Linked DNA regions of Homo sapiens. The protein of the gene in region 1 interacts with the protein of each later gene in a pairwise test. Each region holds a gene or a part of one and is shown on either strand. Other genes may lie near its edges.

Region 1 (9,932 bases):
AGGCCATGAGGTAGAGGGGTTGGGTGTGTTCCAGGAATACGGCTGTAGTGAAGTGGGCTAGGAGAGGATGATAAGAACAAAATCAGAGAGGTGGGCTGGGGTGGGTTATGTGAGGTCTTGCAGACCACTGTAAGATTTTGACCCTGAGTGAGATAGGAAGTCATCGGATGGTCTTGAGCGAAGGGTAGGCGAGGGCTGACTTACATTTTCCAAGGATCATTCTTCAGAGCAGACCAGGGTGGCAAATGGTGACTCTGCAGGTTGTGAATATATTTTGAGGGTCGAGCTGACAGCATTTGCCGATGAACTAGATACAAGATGTGAGAGATGGAGAGGACTCCAAATCTTTGGCCCCACTGGAAAGATGGAATTTCCATGAACTGAAATGAGGTGGCTATGGGAAGAGCAAGGAAAATTTGAGGACAATTGCCACTGTATCAAAATATGTTCGTGAAGGCAGCTGACAAAGGACATTCAATGATGCTATCTTTGTTAGGAAGATGGAGCGTGAGGTGATTTATTTTTTTCCCACATTGTTGGTACTGTTTTCATTTTACTTTTATAGTCAAATATAAATACAAATTTAATTTTTTAAAATGAAAACAGTTTACCTAAAAAGAAAAGCCAAAGGATCATGGGGTCCTTCTAGAGCAGTGCTTTCCAAAGTCGATTCCTTGGATCCTGGAGTTTTTAAAAGGCTTTGAGGAGAACATTGAAGTAGGTGAACCCCAGGACCCTCCCACAGCTATTGGTACCTCTTCAACCAGAACAATCCCACTTGTATCTGTTTTAATTATTGGAGTTCCTTCTGAACTTGTTTTCAAAAAAGAAAAGTTCTACTAAAAAAATGAAGGAAGTTTAAAGAGCAAGGCTCTAGATTTAAATCATGTAATACCTTAAAAACTCAGGTTGCCTTATAAAACTTGAAACCCAAATTAAGCATGGAGTGACTCTTCGTTAGAAATTTAAAACTGAATATGAACTTGAGTTAATGACTTCCTTTTCCTGAGAATGCAAAGAGAGTTAGCCTCTCTGCAATATCAATTTCACTTGACCGCATATGACCATGTTGAATTGGGCTCCTTGTTGAATTAAACCTCCTGGTGTCATACAGAAATCAGTGTGGAGTGAACATCACTATGGGTTTTTATATAGAAAAACTGCACTAAAAACGTGGTTAGGAATCATATCTGAAATATATGTTTTTCAAAATCACTCAGTCATTTTCAAGATTTTTTTTCATTCAGAATTATGTTCTAAGAGGGAGAATTTTGCTTGATACTATTTTTAAAGTGTTGAATTTTATTCCCTTTCTTTCTTTCTTTCTTTCTTTTTCTTTCTTTCTTTCTTTCTTTCTTTCTTTCTTTCTTTCTTTCTTTCTTTCTTTCTTTTTCTTTCTGTATTATACTTTAAGTTCTGGGATACACGTGCAGAACATGCAGGTTTGTTACATAGGTATACAAGTGCCACAGTGGTTTGCTGCACCCATCAACCTGTCATCTACATTAAGTGTTTCTCCTAATGCTATTCAGCAACTATGTGCTGATCTTTTCCTTTTAAGCAATATTAAATAGGTAAGTGAGGGAAAAATTATTTTTGCAATTTAGTTGAGACAGGCTTTTCAAATTTGAATGTCTCGTCACAAGGGATAATATTAAGCTGTTTCTAAACTGTTCTTAGGAATGCAATGGATAGGATGTGTAAGATTCATCTAGTGCTGTTAAATAGCTTGTTATCTAATAGGTGAGCATGAGTTTTAAATATTTTACAAACCTAATATTTTAGTAATTCATTGAGGGAAGATACTCCTACTGCAAGAGTCATCATTGATCCACAGACGAAATACAGGTCTACAAACCCTTAACCACGATTCTAAATTCCAAAAAATTTTGAAAACCAAAATATTTTTTAAAATATAACTTGTTCAGTGCCTGTATTGGAACTGGCCTTGAACATATGTAGAAATTCGGTAGGTAGAGACTAAAAAGGTAGAAAAACAGGCATTTTAGGTAGATACTACATCTTAAGACCCAGATATAGGAAATGCAAAAGTATTTATTTCGGCATCTCAGACTGAGTGTAGAATGTGGTAAATACATATAGGTCTATAATCTCTCATACAAAATCCTTGGAATCAGATTTCAGAAATCAGAAAGTTCTGGATTTTAGAAAGGTAATACAATACCTATACCCTCTACTATATTACACTCCCAGCAGGATCCAGGAAATACCTGGAATGTAGGCAAACCATTTATGTTTGTGCAACACCAAGTGGGATCAATAAAGATAATAAATAACCTCTTGTCAGTTCAGGTCAGATTTTGCTGACCTGTGAGTTATGAAATGAGCTGTGAAAATCAGCTATGAAAAAACATTTGAATTGTTAGAACTTTTGGAGTTTTGGAATTGTGGTTAAGGGCTGATTTGTGCAGATTGAGCTGGTGGGATATATCTGTAGCAGTTTACGGAGGACTTTGAAAATCAGACTGAGACATTGCACCTCTTCCATTAAATGTTGGAAAATCCCTAGGGGCAGGGAGCAATTAAGGGTGAGGCTTTATAGCGTTTATAGTAGAGACACAGGGAGTCTGACAAGGTTGTGTCAGTGAGTTCAAGAACGAAGTAAATGGGAGAAACTTTTTCCAAAAGCAGAATCAGCAGATTTTCATCATGATCTGGGAAGCCGTGGGGAGGTGGGTGGAGAAGTCAGCGAAGAATAAAGGAGCCAAAGGTGATTCCGAGGTTTGAGCTTGAGTTACTACACACAGACAGCAGAAATCTCAAGGAAAGACTTGATTTTATGGAATGATGATGATTTTAGTGTTAGACATAATTTTAAAGTTCTGGAGGGAACTAGGTAAACAATGTCAAGTGAGGCACTGGAAGTGACCTTAGATTTGGAGTCCAAAACAGAAGCCATCCTTGCAGGTGCACATTTTAGAAATTGTATAGAAAAAGACAGGAGAGGCCGGGTGTGGTGGCTCACGCCTGTAATCCCAGCACTTTGGGAGGCCGAGGCAGGCAGATCACGAGGTCAGGAGTTCGAGATGAGCCTGGCCAACATGGTGAAACCCTGTCTCTACTATCAAATACAAAAATTAGCAGGGCATGGTGGTGTGCGCCTGTAATCCCAGCTACTCGGGAGGCTGAGGCAGGAGAATTGCTTGAACACTTGGCCCTGGGAGGCAGAGGTTGCAGTGAGCCGAGATCGTGCCACTGCACTCCAGTCTCAAAAAAAAAAAAAAAAAAAAAAAAAAGAGGAAGAAAAAGAAAACAAAAAGACAGGAGAAAGGGGGAAACCTTGTTAGTGAGGAGGAGCTAGGAAAGAAGAACAAGGATAGGCTGGAGAAATGGTAGAAAAATGGAGACCTGGAAGCCGAGAGATGAGAATAGAAGGAGGAGGATGTGGCACGACCAGAGGACACCAGGCAAGGAACAAGAAGTCCCCCTTCTCATAAACTTTAGTAGCCAGAATCTGAGCCACTGACAGAGGAGGATGCAGAAAATTGGCCTGACAAATCTGTGCCAAAAGACAAGGCAGGTGCAATTATGAAATCATTTGGGAGCCAGATAGCAGCCTAACGAGACCCCCTTGGATCAGCATTGTTGATGCCATAAGTCCTCTCGACCACACTCATGTAATTCTGAGCTACTGTTTTCACAGGAACTAGTATTTGGCTCTATTGCCTTAATAGTTCATTTGTACTGAGGAGGAACCCTAATTTATGTGGAATAGTTTTTAGGCCATGGCTAAAAACAAAAACAAATTTGAATTATGAGCAGGTTGAATTCAATTAGTACCAAGATAATTTCCTGAGACTAAGAATTTCCTTTATTTTCCTTATCATAACTGGTTGTTAGGTGAAAGATAATTTTTAAATGAGTGTATATGTGTTTATGTAAAGCCTTAGCTTAGAGTTTTGCAGTTGATGAAAGCAAATTGTATATGTGTATTTTATATTTGAAATTTGAAATATTGTTTATCTCATTTTTCATCCCTTTTGTTTCTTTTCTCACCCTCTTTTCTTCTTTTAACAAAGTGCTATGTAAACAATAAAGAGCCTATAGATGAGCAAACAGACCTACCCGTACTTTGGCCTTTCAGTCTCATAAAGCAGGAAAATAAATCACTGGGAGAAGTCAATAGAAGTCTATTTTTAACATGATTTCATTTTGCTAATCTATGGCATTTTAAATCATTTTTCTTCTGTAGAAAACTTTAATAGCCTTTGAAAGGTTAATGATTCAGTTTGAGATAGAATATTAGCATTGTGTGTGGTGATTACATAAAAACATTTGTTCTGCAAATATTTATTGATTGCCTGGGTGCTTGGAGCTACTGGCAGTGAGAAGATTTGGTTCCCACTCCCAAAGAGTTTATAGACTGGTGAGGCATTGATGCGGGCAGGGGAGCATCCTGATACAATTGCGTCACAGAGTCAGAGGTGTTGGGGCAGTTGTTAGTGGGATGACAGCAGTGCTAGTGACTGCCTCTTCCTTATGGGGAGATGGCAGGTGATAGCTAATGTGGCTCTTGAAGGATGATTAGGATATCAGGCCAAGAGGGAGAAAGGAGCATTTCAGGTAGAAGTAATAATGTGCCAACTGCATGGAGACATGGCAGTCCACACCTGTTATAATACAGTGAAACACGTGATTTGCATGGGGCCTGGGGTTGGGTGGGGAAAAACAAGGACTAGAAAGATAGATTGGCACCAGTTTGGGAAGAGTCTTCTATGCACACTAAGCCCTTAGGACTTGAGCTTCCTATAGGCAGTATGTGAACCTTCCAGGGTTTTAAGCAAAGAGTGCATTTTACAAAGACAGTTCTGGGACAGTGTGTTGGTGGCAGGACCAGTGTAGTCCTCTCACTGGCTACTGCAAGCAGTACCATTTATTCATTCAACACATATTTTTGCATTCAGTGTCTATTTGTTAAATGCCTCTTTTGTGCCAAGTGCTGCGTTTGTGATTTGTAATTCTGCATCTTTTTACTTCATTGTCTTTGTATTTAGCCGTAAGTCAATGGTCTCGGCACAGTTATTTGTGAAATGCTATAGTAGATTGCTGCTTTTGCACCTATATCATAAGCTTTCATCTGTTGTTACCATATTTTTTATAAATGCCATCTATGATTTGAAGTATATAAATGTTAAAGCGCAACAGATTTTAGCTGTTATCTAGGCCAAATTCTTCATTTTACGCATAATGGATTTATGATCTAAAAAACTGAAGCTCAGTGTCACTTAGCTAATTAATTCCAGGGCTGGAACATGGGCTATCTGTAAATTTGAGGTTCTTGCTTTAATGCAAAAGAATTATGCATCAGGTGTGCACCATGTTGGTTGAGGAAAAAGAAGTGGCATGGTGTCTTTATTGCCCCTGCGTCTCAGGTTTCTCCACCTCTCCCCTCCCCGCCCTTCCCACTCTGCCCCTGAAAGCCCCCCACCAGCTTTACTGCTCTCATAGTGCCACCTTGTGAGTTCTTTATTCACAGTTAATTCTGTGATAGTTCTTCCAGTGATCTGGTAGGTGGTGGAAATAAGTTACTCAACTGCCTGAGAAGGTCAAATTTCATTGTTTAATGATGAATCTTGTTGTAGCCCTAACTGCCCACTAAAAGTAAACTTGTAAGGACTGTAAAACCTTGTTAGCCCACAGCCTGTAATAGAATGGACAGATGCCACCCTAGTTGTGTCTTAAGAAATTAAGAAGCTTTTAGGTGTTTAATAAATGAGAGTTGAGCCTCCCTTTCTGGGACTCACCTGAACCACAGTCTCTGAGGGGGTCTTGCTGCATTCACAGATACCGGGTCCATCCGTAGTTTACAGACAGGTGTGGGAGAGCTGCATGGGGAAACCAGATTCTGGCATGGAAAGGACTACTGCAATTTCGTCTTCAAAGACTGGGTTCAACTTGATAAACCTTTTGCTGGTGAGTATCATAATGGTGGGGTGCTGGTTATATTTTGTCTTTTACCTTTGAACATCTCAGCAAGTATACATGTGCATGATCTAAATGCCTTTTGTTTTGCTTCCGTTGATTTTTGAAAATTTTTTAAAACTTTGGAGACTAGATTTAGTCATTAGCATGTGCTTAAGGACTTTTTTTTCAGTTATAATAAGAAAAGAACATGAAATAGAGCTGAACTGTCTGAAAAATCCAGATTTTTATAGGCATATTTTGGGGGCAATAATCAGTAATTTTTCAGGAAATGGTAGGCTCCCTTTGATCATCTTCTATTCTGCTTATTTCCTGCATTTCCAGCGTTAGAATGGCATATTTTCAGGTTATCACTGGGTTTATATGTTTAAGAGGAGATAGAGATGGCATTGCCTGCCATTGTTTCAACAGGATAAAAAATAAAAAATATAATATCAAATACACAGCCTTAGATAATTTGTACCAACTCACATCTTGCCATGTCTAGTGATTATCTAATCCTAAGTGAAACGGAAACATATGTGGGGAAGTGCCTGGGAGACTATGTCCCTGAATGTGAAATCTGTTTCCCTTGATTATAAAAATGTTGTTCTATGCAAGCCAAGAAATATATACCTAGTGGGCACTAACCCACGTTTCCTTTTAGTTTCATAGTTGGAGTCAGAGAGACTTTGCCCCAACACTGAAGTTAATGACTGATCCTTGCCTGGTGCACCCGGGCAGATTTCATTGACAGGTACTCCACGCCCCGGATGCCCTGGCATGACATTGCCTCTGCAGTCCACGGGAAGGCGGCTCGTGATGTGGCACGTCACTTCATCCAGCGCTGGAACTTCACAAAAGTACTTGGATGTTGCTATCATGATTTATCCACATGAAGAGAGGCAGGCCTAACTAGAGAAGAGGTTTAGAGGAGGCTGGTAGCAAGAAGAGACTGTTGTGGCCACAACTGTGTCACTGCTCTGCTGTTGGCTGCATTGATGTCCGGGTGCCTGGGCATCTGGGCAAAAAAAAAGGGAAACATTCCCGAATGTCCACACCATAGACAATTCAGAGTGCCTAGGGACAGGTGCTGCTGTGTGGGTCCTGATTTTAACCTTGTTAACATCTTGGACACAGTGTTGACTAAGCATTTAGTAGCCTGGGCTCGGTAGTCATTTGCAGGGCTGTTATAGGGGGATAGGAGCCTGGTTTAGATGAGAGGGCTTGAGCTTTAAAGTCCCATCCAGTTGGATGGGACTGGAATTGCACTGGGTTTATATTGGTACAGGATTCTGAGAGCTGGTTCTGAGCAAACCAAGAAGTATTAAGAAGGTGGGGCCATTTTCCTTTTATCCAGATTGTGTCCTCATTACTTGTAAGAACTTGACATAACATTCAAACCTAACATTCATAAGTTAAGTACGTATCATTCAGGCCAGGCACGGTGGCCCACGACTGTAATCCTGGCACTTTGGGAGGCCTAGGCTGGTGGATCACCTGAGGTCAGGAGTTCGAGACCAGCCTGACCAACATGGTGAAAACCTGTCTCTACTAAAATACAAAAATTAGCTGGGCATGGTGGTGGGTGCCTGTAATCTCAACTGCTCTGGAGGCTGAGGCAGGAAAATCACTTGAATCCAGGAGGCGGAGTTTGCAGTGAGCTGAGAGGACTCCATTGTACTCCAGCCTAGGCAACAGAGCGAGACTCTGTCTCAAAAAAAAAAAAAAAAAGTACATATTCAGGTGTTATTAAAGTTTCACTTTATTTACTTGAAGGGATAATGAGTCATGATTCCCCTTGGTCGTTTGGAAAAAGAATTTAGTTTTATCAACCACTTAGAGTCTAACTTTGTTTTTCATTCACATAATGATTATAAAAATTTAGTGGACATTCTAATTGAAATTTTTTAACAAAAATTTAGGGGAGATGGATGAATAAACAAATGGGGTGTTACTTTTAACCTGCTATACTGGCAAAGATAAAAGTCTCTGCTGATACCTGTAGTTAGGTTTGGGGTGGTTTTTGTGGTGTGCTCATACATGCTACCCCAGGGAGGATAAATTTGTACAACACCAATAAGTCTTTTTTAAAGTATGCAATCTTTGATCCAGAAAAACTATTTCCGGGTATTCAAACTAAAGCCATAATCCAATAAGGTAATTTATTTTGATATGGCTTCTAATAATTCAAATAAAATTAGAAATAACAGAAATCCTTACTAATAGGAATTTATTAAACAAATGATTCTTTTATACCATTTTACTATGAAGTTATTAAAAATAATGATATCCCACTATATTGCTGTGACAAGATATCTAGAACATAATCAGTAAAAAATTAGTTTATAAAACAATAGTCTCATTTTTGCAATTATAAAGTTCTGTAACTACAGATTATATTTAACCTGTCTTTACAAATATAAAACAATATTTCCCCTACAAAAGGTAAAAACAGGACTGTGAGAAGTAGAAAACAAACACAAATAATCTGTAGCCCTTCACTTAGAAATGTCCACCATTAACATTTTTCTTTTTCTTTTTCAAATTAACCTGAATTTCTTTTCTTTTCTTTTTCTTTTTTTTTTTTTTTTTTTTGAGATGGAGATTCACTCTTGTCACCCAGGCTGTAGTGCAATGATGAAATCTCGACTCACTGCAACCTCTGCCTCCGAGGTTCAAGTGATTCTCCTGCCTCAGCCTCCCGAGTAGCTGGGATTACAGGCGCCCGCCACCATGCTTGGCTAATTTTTGTATTTTTAGTAGAGATGGGGGTTTCACCGTGTTGGCCAGGCTGATCTCGAACTCCTGACCTCAAGTGATCCCCGCTTCTTGGCCTCCCAAAGTGCTGGGATTACAGGCGTGAGCCACTGCACCTGGGCATGAATTTCTTTTATAATCACAAAGTAGGGAGAATGAATCTTTTTTCTCATTTGAATATTTTATCCTTTTTCTTTATTTTAGATTATGAAATCAAAATATCGGTCCCTTTCTTATCCTTTTCTGCTTCCAAAGTCTCAAACAACAGCCCATGAGTTGAGATATCAAGTGCCTGGGTCTGTCCATGCTAACGTACAGGTAAGTAAGTTCTGGCTTTTCTTTTTGACAAAATGCTACTGAGTAAAATTACTGTTATTGGACCAAGGGCCTATTACATTGGCTTCAGATTTTTCAATGACTGCTTTTCTAAAGCAAAACTAAATGGATCTTTTAATACTTGTTATTATATTTCCTATGTTAAATGGATTCAATTCAGTCTCTTTTTAAAACTCTTATAAATATAATAAATGCATGTCCTTAGAAAAGGCCACAGCCAAGGCTATTCCTGTAATTCCTTCTGAAGTGACCCTAGCAACATGATACCCAGTAAACCTGGACCTGATACTGCCTAAGCACCAGGAATGTGGCTGAAACTTAGCAGCTAGGAAGCTAGTTGTAGTTCAGTCTAATTTTAGTTCCTGATTAACCAAATGTCTTCTAGAGGCCCTTTTAATGGAATAAGGAATTTGCTTAATAGAGTCACAACAGTTTACCACATCCAGTTTAACCATCTCAAACTACAAATAAGAAAATTCAGACCTAGTGGGGCTCTGAGGCCTATCTAGGGCCGGCCAGCTAGTTATCAACAGAGGTGGAGCTTGAAATCCTAGTCTGGTCCAGTGTTACCCAATCTGCTTCCTTTACCAACTACAGCTCAAATATCTTGAGATCATGTGGGGACAGAAGTAGGATGGGCCACCTTTGGCATTGCCTTTTGTTTGAAGTCATCAATATGGGCATCAGAAGAATTGTTTAAGTAAAGTCCAGCAGTCTGCTACTGCTACATATCATCAGTAGGGACCATCAGTAGGGACTTATATAATGCAGACATGGATCCTAGGGAATGTGATTATATAAATGAAGTGCCTAAATCAGTTATTTTGCATCGTGTGCAATTGGAGGTATGTGTATATAAGAAATAAGACATTTCAGACTGTAGATCAAATAATAGAACTTTTTTTAAAAAAGGC
Region 2 (9,932 bases), on another chromosome or scaffold:
TGCTGTAGTTACCTCTTTTGGACCTCACGCCTATCCTAGGAGGGTGGTAAATACTGCAGGCCTTCTCCAGCCTCCACCACTTACAACAGTTGTGGAACCTTGTGTGAGTTCTTACTCTGTGCATTGGCTTCCTCATCTATAAAATGGAGATAATAGATGAAGATTCTTTCTTTCTTTCTTTTTTTGAGACAGAGTCTTGCTCTTGTTGCTCAGGCTGGAGGGCAATGGCGCAATCTCAGTTCACTGCAACCTCTGTCTCCCAGGTTCAAGCAATCCTCCTGCTTCAGCCTCCTGAGTAGCTAGGATTACAGGCACACACCACCATACCCAGCTAATCGTTTGTATTTTTAGTAGAGACGGAGTTTCACCATGTTGGCCAGGCTGGTCTCAAACTCCTGACCTCAGGTGATCCACCCGCCTCGGCCTCCCAAAGTGCTGGGATTACAGGCGTGAGCCACTGCACCCAGCCAATAGATGATGAGGATTCTATAAATGAGTATTCATGTAAAATGCCTAGAATAATCTTGAACACGGTGAAGTCATTCCAAGGTGGGCGGCTCGGCACGAGAATGATGAAAGGGCCGTCTGCTGGGAAAGCAGGGACTGTTGAATATCAGAGTGAGTTTGGCTGGCTGAGCAGGTGCATCCTTCCTGGCCCTGGCTCTAGGAGCTCTGCCTTCCCAGGTAGTACAGGGTTCTCTAGTTAGGTGGTTTTTGAGAAGCTGCAATTCTCAGCTGGACACCGTGGGCTTAGAGTAGGAGGTGTAAAAAGTTAATGCAAGCTCTAGGATGTCAAGCATTGGGTGGGTTGCAGGAATAATGTGAGAGGAAGCTAAAAAAGGTATGTTTGGGGCCGGGTGTGGTGGCTTATGCCTGTAATCCCAGCACTTTGGGAGGCCGAGGCAGGCGGATCATGAGGTCAGGAGTTCGAGACCAGCCTGACCAAGATGGTGAAACCCTGTCTCTTCTAAAAATACAAAAAATTAGCCAGGCATGGTGGTGGGCGCCTGTAGTCTCAGCTACTCGGGAGGCTGAGGTAGAGAATTGCTTGAAACCAGGAGCCGGAGGTTGCAGTGAGCCGAGATTGCACCACTGCACTCCAGCCTGGGCAACAGAGCGAGACTCTGGCTCAAAAAAAGAAAAAAAAAAAAAAAGGTATGTTTGGGCCACATCTTTAAGGACCTTGAAACCATGCGTAGCAATTTGGGTATTTATTGGTGAAGTGGAGCAATAGTTCACTCTGTGTTGTAGCAAGTTAACTGTGGTGGTGTAGAGAATAGATTGAGGTGAGGAGAGGAGGAAGTCCTTTTAGAAGACCAGGACAAAAGTGCCAGTGAGACAGGATGTCTTGGAGTAGGGCCCTGATAGTGGGATGCAGAAGAGGGGGATGGAGACTGTAGTCTTTCTAAGATAGAAAGGTCACTTTTTGGCCAGGCGCAGTGACTCGTGCCTGTAATCCCAGCACTTTGGGAGGCCATGATCCCTGGTGGATCACGAGGTCAGGAGATTGAGACCATCCTGGCCAACATGGTGAAACCCTGTCTCTACTAAATACACAAAAATTAGCCAGGCGTGGTGGCAGGCACCTATAGTCTCAGCTACTCAGGAGGCTGAGGCAGGAGAATCACTTGAACCCAGGAGGAGGAGGTTGCAGTGAGCTGAGACCACGCCACTGCACTCCAGCCTGGGCGACAGAGTGAAGCTCCATCTCAAAAAAAAAAAAAAAAAAGAAAAGAAAAGTCACTTCTCAGTGAACTGGCTATACAGGGGAGGGAAAGAGCTGTCTGAAGATTTCTTGCCTGTGGCCGGATGTGGTGGCTCATGCCTGTAATCCCAGCACTTTGGGAGGTCTAGGTAGGAGGATCGCTTGAGCTCAGGAGTTTGAGACCAGCCTGAGCAACATAGTGAGACTTCATCTCTACAAAAAGTTAAAAAATTAGCGGGTGTGGCGCTACGTGCCTGTAGTCCTGGCTACCCGGGAGGCTGAGGCAGGAGGATGGCTTGAGCCGGGGAGGTTGAGGCTGCAGTGAGCTATGATCATGCCACAGTACTCAGGCCTGGGCGACAGAGGGAGACTCCATCTCAAAAAAAAAAAAAAAGACAAAAACAAAAAAACAGAAACAGGAAAGACCAAAGCTATTTGCATTTGAGGGGCAAAGCAGCAAGAGAACACTCCCCAGTGGGAACTGACTGAGCTGGCAGGCAATAGGCAGCTGGGTCAAAGAGCTCAGATGTCAGAATGATGGAATCTGACTTCAAGAGCGTTTGACAGGATAGAAGGGTGGGCCAGTTCTAACAAGATGAACTTTTACAGAAACAAGAAATGTTGCTTACAAGCACTTGGTATGAAAAACTTTTTTTTTTGATACAGAGTTTGGTTTTGTTGCCCAGGCTGGAGTGCGGTGGCGCAATCTGGGCTCACTGCAAGCTCCGCTTCCCAGGTTCACACCATTCTCCTGCCTCAGCCTCCCGAGTAGCTGGGACTACAGGTGCCCGCCACCACGCCTGGCTAATTTTTTTGTACTTTTAGTAGAGACGGGGTTTCACTGTGTTAGCCAGTATGGTCTCGATCTCCTGACCTCATGATCCGCCTGCCTCAGCCTCCCAAAGTGCTGGGATTACAGGCGTGAGCCACCACGCCCGGCATTTTTTTTTTTTTTTTTTTTTTGAGATGGAGTCCCGGTCTGTCGCCCAGGCTGTGGTGTGATCTCGGCTCACTGCAACCTCTGCCTCCCAGGTTCAAGCGATTCTTGTGCCTTAGCCTCCCGAGTAGCTGAGATTACAGGCATGCACCATCATGCCCTGCTAAGTTTTGTATTTTTAGTAGAGACGGGGTTTCACCATGTTGGCTAGGCTGATCTCGAACTCCTGAGCTCAGGTGATCCACCCGTCTTGGCCTCCCAAAGTGCTGGCATTACAGGCGTGAGCCATCTCGCCCAGCCCTGGGGCACTGTTTTTGATACCCATCCCAATTTCTAGCTCTTGGGGAACTTAAGAATAAAGGCAAATTAAAAAAAAATCCTCAAAAGAGTGACAGTCTGAAAGCTGTCATTTGTGTCACAAGGATATGACACAAATGAAGAGGGCACTGGAAACCTGGACATGTATGGAATAACAAAGATAAGCTGGGTTTTTTTTGTTTTTTTTTTTGACAGGGTCTCTGTTGCCCAGGCTGGGGTGCAGAGTGGTGCAGTCATGGCTCAGCACAGCCTCGACCTCCCAGGCTCAGGTGATTCTCCCACCACAGCCTCCCAAGTATCTGGGACTACAGGTGTACACCATCATGCCCAGCTAATTTTTTGTATTTTTTTGTAGAGATGGGGTTTCGCCATGTTGCCCACGCTGGCCTTAAACTCCTGGACTCAAGAGGTCTTGGCCTCCCAAAGTGCTGGATTACAGACATGAGCCACCGCACTTGACCACGGTTATCTTTTTTTTTTTTTTGAGACGGAGTTTCGCTGTTGTTGCCCAGGCTGGAGTGCAATGGTGCAATCTCGTCTCACTGCAACCTCTGCCTCTTTGAAGTTCAAGAGATTCTCCTGCCTCAGTGAGTATCTGGGATTACAGGCATGCACCACCACGCCCGGCTAATTTTGTATTTTTAGTAGAGATGGGGTTTCTCCATGTTGGTCAGGCTGGTCTTGAACTCCCGACCTCAGGTGATCCGCCTGATTCGGCCTCCCAAAGTGCTGAGATTACAGGTGTGAGCCACCACGCCTGGCCGACCATGGTTCTCTTTAAGTGTTTAGATAACTTACACAGAAAAGAAGGTAGAAATATCTGATCCTAGAAGGAAGAATCAGGTAAATCCAGTGGCTAAAAGTTACCAGGAATTGCTGGGCATGGTGGCTCAATGCCTGTAATCCCAACACTTTGGGAGGCTGAAGAGGGCGGATCACTTGAGGTCAGGAGTTTGAGACCAGCCTGGCCAACATGGTAAAACCCCATCTCTACTAAAAATACAAAAATCAGCTGAGTGTGATGGCACGTGTCTGTAGTCCCACCTACCTGGGAGGTGGAGGCTGAAATGGCACCACTGCACTCCAGCCTGGGTGACAGAGCAAGACTCCATCTCAAAGAAAAAAAAAAGTTATAAGGAAGGTTTTACCTCAACATTATAATTTTATTAGAACTGGGCTGGGCGCAGTGGCTCATGCCTATAATCCCAGCACTTTGGGAGGCCGAGGCGGGCAGATCATGAGGTCAGGAGTTTGAGAACAGCCTGACTAACATGGTGAAACCCCATCTCCACTAAAAATACAAAAATTAGCCGGGCGTGGTGGTATGTGTGCCTATAATCCCAGCTGCTCAGGAGGCTGAGGCAGGAGAATCACTTGAACCTGGGAGGTGGAGGCTGCAGTGAGCCAAGATCGCACCACTGCATTCCAGCCTGGCAACAGAGCAAGACTCCGTCTCAAAAAAAAAAGGCGTGGTGGTGCTACTTGGGAGGCTGAGGCAAGAGAATCGCATGAACTGGGGGACAGAGGTTGCAGTGAGCCGACATCACGCTATTGCACTCCAGCCTCGGCAATACAGCGGGACTCCATCTCAAAAAAAAAAAATTATTATAATTGTGGAACAAACAGTGGTGCCTCAGGTATGTCGAGTCCTTGGAGCTGCATAAGCAGAGACCATATGGTGATGTCGCTGGGATGCTGGCAGGGGATCTACACCGTGGTTGGGTGTGTGGAGGGGTGGATTGACAGAGTGGAGGGAGCAGACGAATGGCTGCTGACATCTAAGAACCTGAGGTAGTCTAGGCCCATGGCTGCTGGCTCCAGAATTGCACCATCCTGGGATTGTGGCTGCCCTTTCACTTTCAATCATTTCTTTTGCAGGAAAACAAGAGTAGAGGCCAATTCTCCTCTTCCAAAGAACTCTGGATCCCTAAATGAGGCAGAAGCCTTGAACCCAGAAGTTACTCTATCTTCAGAGGGGTCCTTAAACCTCGAAGACATTCTCTACCTGGAGGACACAGGTGACCTTGATGAGACACTCTATGTGCAAGAGACTGAGAAGGCAGAGGAGGCCCTGTATATTGAGGAGGCCATGCAGCCAGATGAGGCTCTGCATGTGGAGGAGCCTGGGAATCCAGAGGAGACAGTGTGTGTGGAGGAAACCACGGAGCCAGATCGGATACAGTTTGTGGAGGGGCCCGTGGAGCCAGGAAAGCCCACAAGCCCAGAGCACGTTGTTTATGAGGGAGAGACAGTCACAAGGGCGGAGAAATCTAACCCTGAGGAGAGCCTCAGAGCCGAGCAGAGCCCCAGCATGGAGGAGAACCTGAGCATAGAGGACCTGGAATTGCTAGAGGGGCGTTTCCAGCAGTGTGTCCAAGCTGTGGCCCAGCTGGAAGAGGAGAGGGATCAGCTCATCCATGAGCTTGTATTGCTCCGGGAACCAGCCCTGCAGGAGGTACAGCAAGTCCATCAAGACATCCTGGCTGCCTACAAGCTCCATGCCCAAGCAGAGCTGGAGAGAGATGGCCTAAGGGAGGAGATCCGGCTGGTCAAGCAGAAGCTTTTCAAAGTGACAAAGGAATGTGTGGCCTACCAATACCAGCTGGAGTGCCGCCAGCAGGACGTGGCTCAGTTTGCCGATTTCCGGGAAGTGCTGACTACAAGGGCAACCCAGCTCTCAGAGGAACTGGCCCAGCTCCGGGATGCCTATCAGAAGCAGAAGGAGCAGCTGCGGCAACAACTAGAAGCCCCTCCAAGCCAGAGGGATGGGCACTTTCTCCAGGAAAGCCGGCGACTCTCTGCCCAGTTTGAAAATCTCATGGCAGAGAGCCGCCAGGACCTGGAGGAGGAGTATGAGCCTCAGTTCCTGCGGCTCCTAGAGAGGAAAGAAGCTGGGACCAAAGCTCTGCAGAGAACCCAGGCTGAGATCCAGGAAATGAAGGAGGCTCTGAGACCCCTGCAAGCAGAGGCCCGGCAGCTCCGCCTGCAAAACAGGAACCTGGAGGACCAGATCGCACTTGTGAGGCAAAAACGAGATGAAGAGGTGCAGCAGTACAGGGTAGGCCCATTGGGCATGAAAAGAACTGAGGTCTTTTAACCTGGGGAAAGAGTGGCCAGAGTCCAAGGTCTTTGGGGCTGAAAGATAGTGTCACATGTAGGAAGAAAAATTTGTTCTTTGGGGCCACGCAATTTTTTCTCCATTCTTCATTCATTCAGGCCCATGCTAGGGACTAGAAGTTATCTGCACTGTTTTTTGTTTTTTTTTTTTTGAGATGGAGTCTCGCTCTGTCGCCCAGGCTAGAGTGCAGTGGTGCGATCTCAGCTCACTACAAGCTCTGCCTCCTGGGTTCATGCCATTCTCCTGCCTCAGCCTTCTGAGTAGCTGGGACTACAGGTGCTCACCACCATGCCCGGCTATTTTTTTGTATTTTTAGTAGAGTCGGGGTTTCACTGTTGTTAACCAGGATGGTCTGGATCTCCTGACCTCGTGATCCGCCTGCCTTGGCCTCCCAAAGTGCTGGGATTACAGGTGTGAGCCACCGCGCCCGGCCTGCACTCTGTTTTTTTTGCGACAGGGTCTTGCTGTCACTTAGGCTGGTGCAGTGGCATGATCACAGCTAACTGCAGCCTCGACCTCTCAGGTTCAAGCGATCCTCCCACCTCAGCCTCTTGAGTAGCTGGGACCACAACTGTGCACCAACATGCCCAGCTAATTTTTTCTTTTTTGAGACAGGTGCAATCTTGAGGGCTCACTGCACCTCAAACCTCTTGGGCTCAAGCGATCCTCCTGCCTTAGCCCCCAAGCAGCTGGGACTACAAGTGTGTGCCACCATACCTGGCTAATTTTTTGTAGAGACAGGGTTTCACCACGTGGCCCAGGCTGGATTTGAACTCCTGAGCTCAAGCTATCCGCCTGCCTTGGCCTCCCAAAGAGCTAGGATTATAGGTGTGAGCCACCGCAGCCGGCCAATTTTTGTATTTTTTGTAGACAGGGTTTTGCCATGTTGCCCAGGCTGGTCTTGAAATCCTGGGCTCAAGTACTTTTAATGGCAAAAGCTGCAATTAATTTTGCACCAACCTTAATAGAATCCTCTCATCTTCACTTTCCTTTTATGTGCATTTGTCCCCATCTCTCTTGCATTCAAGTTATTTCTGATTAAGTGTGAGCCAGTTCTAATCCCTTTTTAGAACAGAGTGGGATATAAATACTAAGTGAATAAACAATTACGTAGTCCCTCCTAGACTGTGAACTTTCAGAAGGTAGGGAATACATTTTACTTATTGTTGTATTACTCTCTGCTACTCAAGGCTCAGAGCACATGTGCTGCTGGGCACTAATGAGAAGACTGTAGTGTGGTGCTCTAAGCAGTACTTTAATCTTTTGAAACACTGATTCCTTTGGATAAACTTAGAAATCTATGTCTTCCCAGAGATTGTGATATGCCCTTAAGGGAACAAGTTTCCCTGTTGAAATGGCTGCATTCACTTCACTGAAGATTTTGTCAAGCTTTCTGTAGTTTGTATTATGAAAACACTCTGTCTGGGAGCGGTGGCTCACGCCTGTAATCCCAGCACTTTGGTTGGGAGGCTGAGGTGGGTGGATCACAAGGTCAGTAGTTTGAGACAAGTATAGCCAATATGGTGAAACCCCGTCTCTACTAAAAAGACAAAAATTAGGGGGGCATGGTGGCACATGCCTGTAGTCCCAGCTACTTGGGAGGCTGAGGCAGGAGAATCGCTTGAACCCGGGAGGCGGAGGTTGCAGTGAGCTGAGATTGCACCACTGCACTCTAGCCTGGGTGACAGAGTGAGACTCCATCTCAAAAACAAACAAAAACAAACAAACAAAAAAAAAACACTGTGGTTTTTGGGGTCATAATACTGAATGTTTTTTATTTTTATCTTTATTTATTTATTTTTGAGACAGAGTCTTGCTCTTTCACCCAGGCTGGAGTGCACTGAACCAATCTCGGCTCACTGCAAACTCCACCTCCCGGGTTCAAGCAATTCTCATTTCAGCCTCCTGAGTTGCTGGGACTACAGGTGCCCGCCACTGCACCCAGCTAATTTTTTGTATTTTAGTAGAGATGGGGTTTCACCATGTTGCCCAGGGTGGTCTCAAACTCCTGAGCTTAGGCAGTCCACCCGCCTCAGCCTCCCAGTTATTTTTACAGAGTCTCGCTCTGTCACACAGGCTGGAGTGCAGTGGAGTGCAGTGGCATGATCTCAGCTCACTGCAACCTCTGCCTCCTGGGTTCAAGCAATCCTCCTGCCTCAGTCTCCCAAGTTGCTGGGATTGCAGACCTGTGCCACCATGCCCAGCTAATTTGGGTATTTTAGTAGAGATGGGGTTTCACCATGTTGGTCAGGCTGGTCTCGAACACCTGACCTCAGGTGATCCACCGGCCTCAGCCTCCCAGTGTTGGGATTACAGGCGTAAGCCACCACACCCAGAAGTAATACTGAATGTTTTTAAACTCTTCATATTCCCCTTACCCTATTTTTTAAAAAATTGGTTCACAGTCTAGTGAAAAGTCATTTATTTAGCATCAATACTATCCTTAACAGCCAATACTCAGACAGACATTACATTAATAGTTGTATCTCAGAGAAGAAAGTAATAGGTGATTTATGAGAGGTGCAGGTAAAAGGGCTGTGGGATAGATGATGATGATGATGATGATTATTATTTTTTGAGACGGAGTCTGTCACTCTTGCCCAGGCTGGAGTGCAGTGGCGCTCAGCTCACTGCAAGCTCTGCCTCCCGGGTTCGCGCCATTGTCCTGCCTCAGCCTCCCGAGTAGCTGGGATTGCAGGCGCCCGCCACCGCACCAGGCTAATTTTTTGCATTTTTAATAGAGACGGGGTTTCACCGTGTTAGCCAGGATGGTCTCCATCTCCTGATCTTGTGATCCGCCCGCCTCGCCTCTCAAAGTGCTGGGATTACAGGCATGAGCCACTGCGCCCGGCCGGGATAGATTATTTTTAGGCGCTGGTTAAATCAGAGAACTCTTCATGAAAAAAGAGGTGGAATTTGAGCTAGGTATGAAAGCATAGGGAGAATCTAGACCAGTGCTGCCCAACAGAAATATAATGCAAGTCACATAAATAATTACAAATTTTCTAATAGCCACATTAAAATAGGCAAAAATTCAGCTGAGCTAAGCCTGAGGGGAGCAGGGGAGAAAAGATATAGGTAAAATTAATTTAAATATATTTTATCTAACTCAACATATCTGAAATATAATTAGTAACTTGGCTGCAGGTGACAAGCTTGAGTTTTGGACTTTATTCAGTAGTCTGCTGCATCATTAAAGGGATTTAATCAGGGAAGTAACATGATTGCCTTGCTACTTTTTTTTTTTTTTCTGAGATGGAGTCTCCCTCTGTCACCCATGCTGGAGTGCAGTGGCACGATCTCGCCTTGCTGCAACCTCCACTTCCCAGGTTCAAGCAATTTTCCTGCCTCAGCCTCCCAAGTAGCTGGGATTACAGGCGCCTAACACCATGGACGTGGCTAATTTTTTTTTAGTCGGAGTCTCTTCTATTGCCTAGGCTGGAGTGCAATAGCGTGATCTCGGCTCATTGCAACCTCTACCTCCCGGGTTCAAGCAGTTCTCCTGCCTCAGCCTCCCGAGTAGCTGGGACTACAGGTGCACAGTGCCACGCCTGGCAAATTTTTTTTGTTGTTTTTTTTTGTTTTTTGAGAAGGAGTCTCGCTCTGTCACCCAGGCTGGAGTGCAGTGGCATGATCTGGGCTCACTGCAACCTCTGCCTCCTGGGTTCAAGCGATTTTCCTGCCTCAGCCTCCCGAGTAGCTGGGACTACAGGTGCATGCCACCATAGCTGGCTAATTTTTTCTATTTTTATTAGAGACAGTGTTTCACTATGTTAGCCAGGATGGTCTTGATCTCCTGACCTCATGATCCACCTGCCTCGGCCTCCCAAAGTACTGGGATTATAGGTGTGAGC

What was found.
Region 2: the proteins of PLD1 (region 1) and SYNC interact in binary tests that used the Homo sapiens proteins (3 or more experiments, as listed by UniProt).

The regions. Positions count from the first base shown.
Region 1 is NC_000003.12:171,673,568-171,683,499, reverse strand, and holds part of PLD1 (phospholipase D1), read left to right. Parts: intron 1-5,805; coding exon 5,806-5,934; intron 5,935-6,666; coding exon 6,667-6,785; intron 6,786-8,886; coding exon 8,887-9,000; intron 9,001-9,932. UniProt on the Homo sapiens protein: Function as phospholipase selective for phosphatidylcholine. Implicated as a critical step in numerous cellular pathways, including signal transduction, membrane trafficking, and the regulation of mitosis.
Region 2 is NC_000001.11:32,690,951-32,700,882, reverse strand, and holds part of SYNC (syncoilin), read left to right. Parts: intron 1-3,453; exon of another isoform or gene 3,454-3,547; intron 3,548-4,838; coding exon 4,839-6,018; intron 6,019-9,932.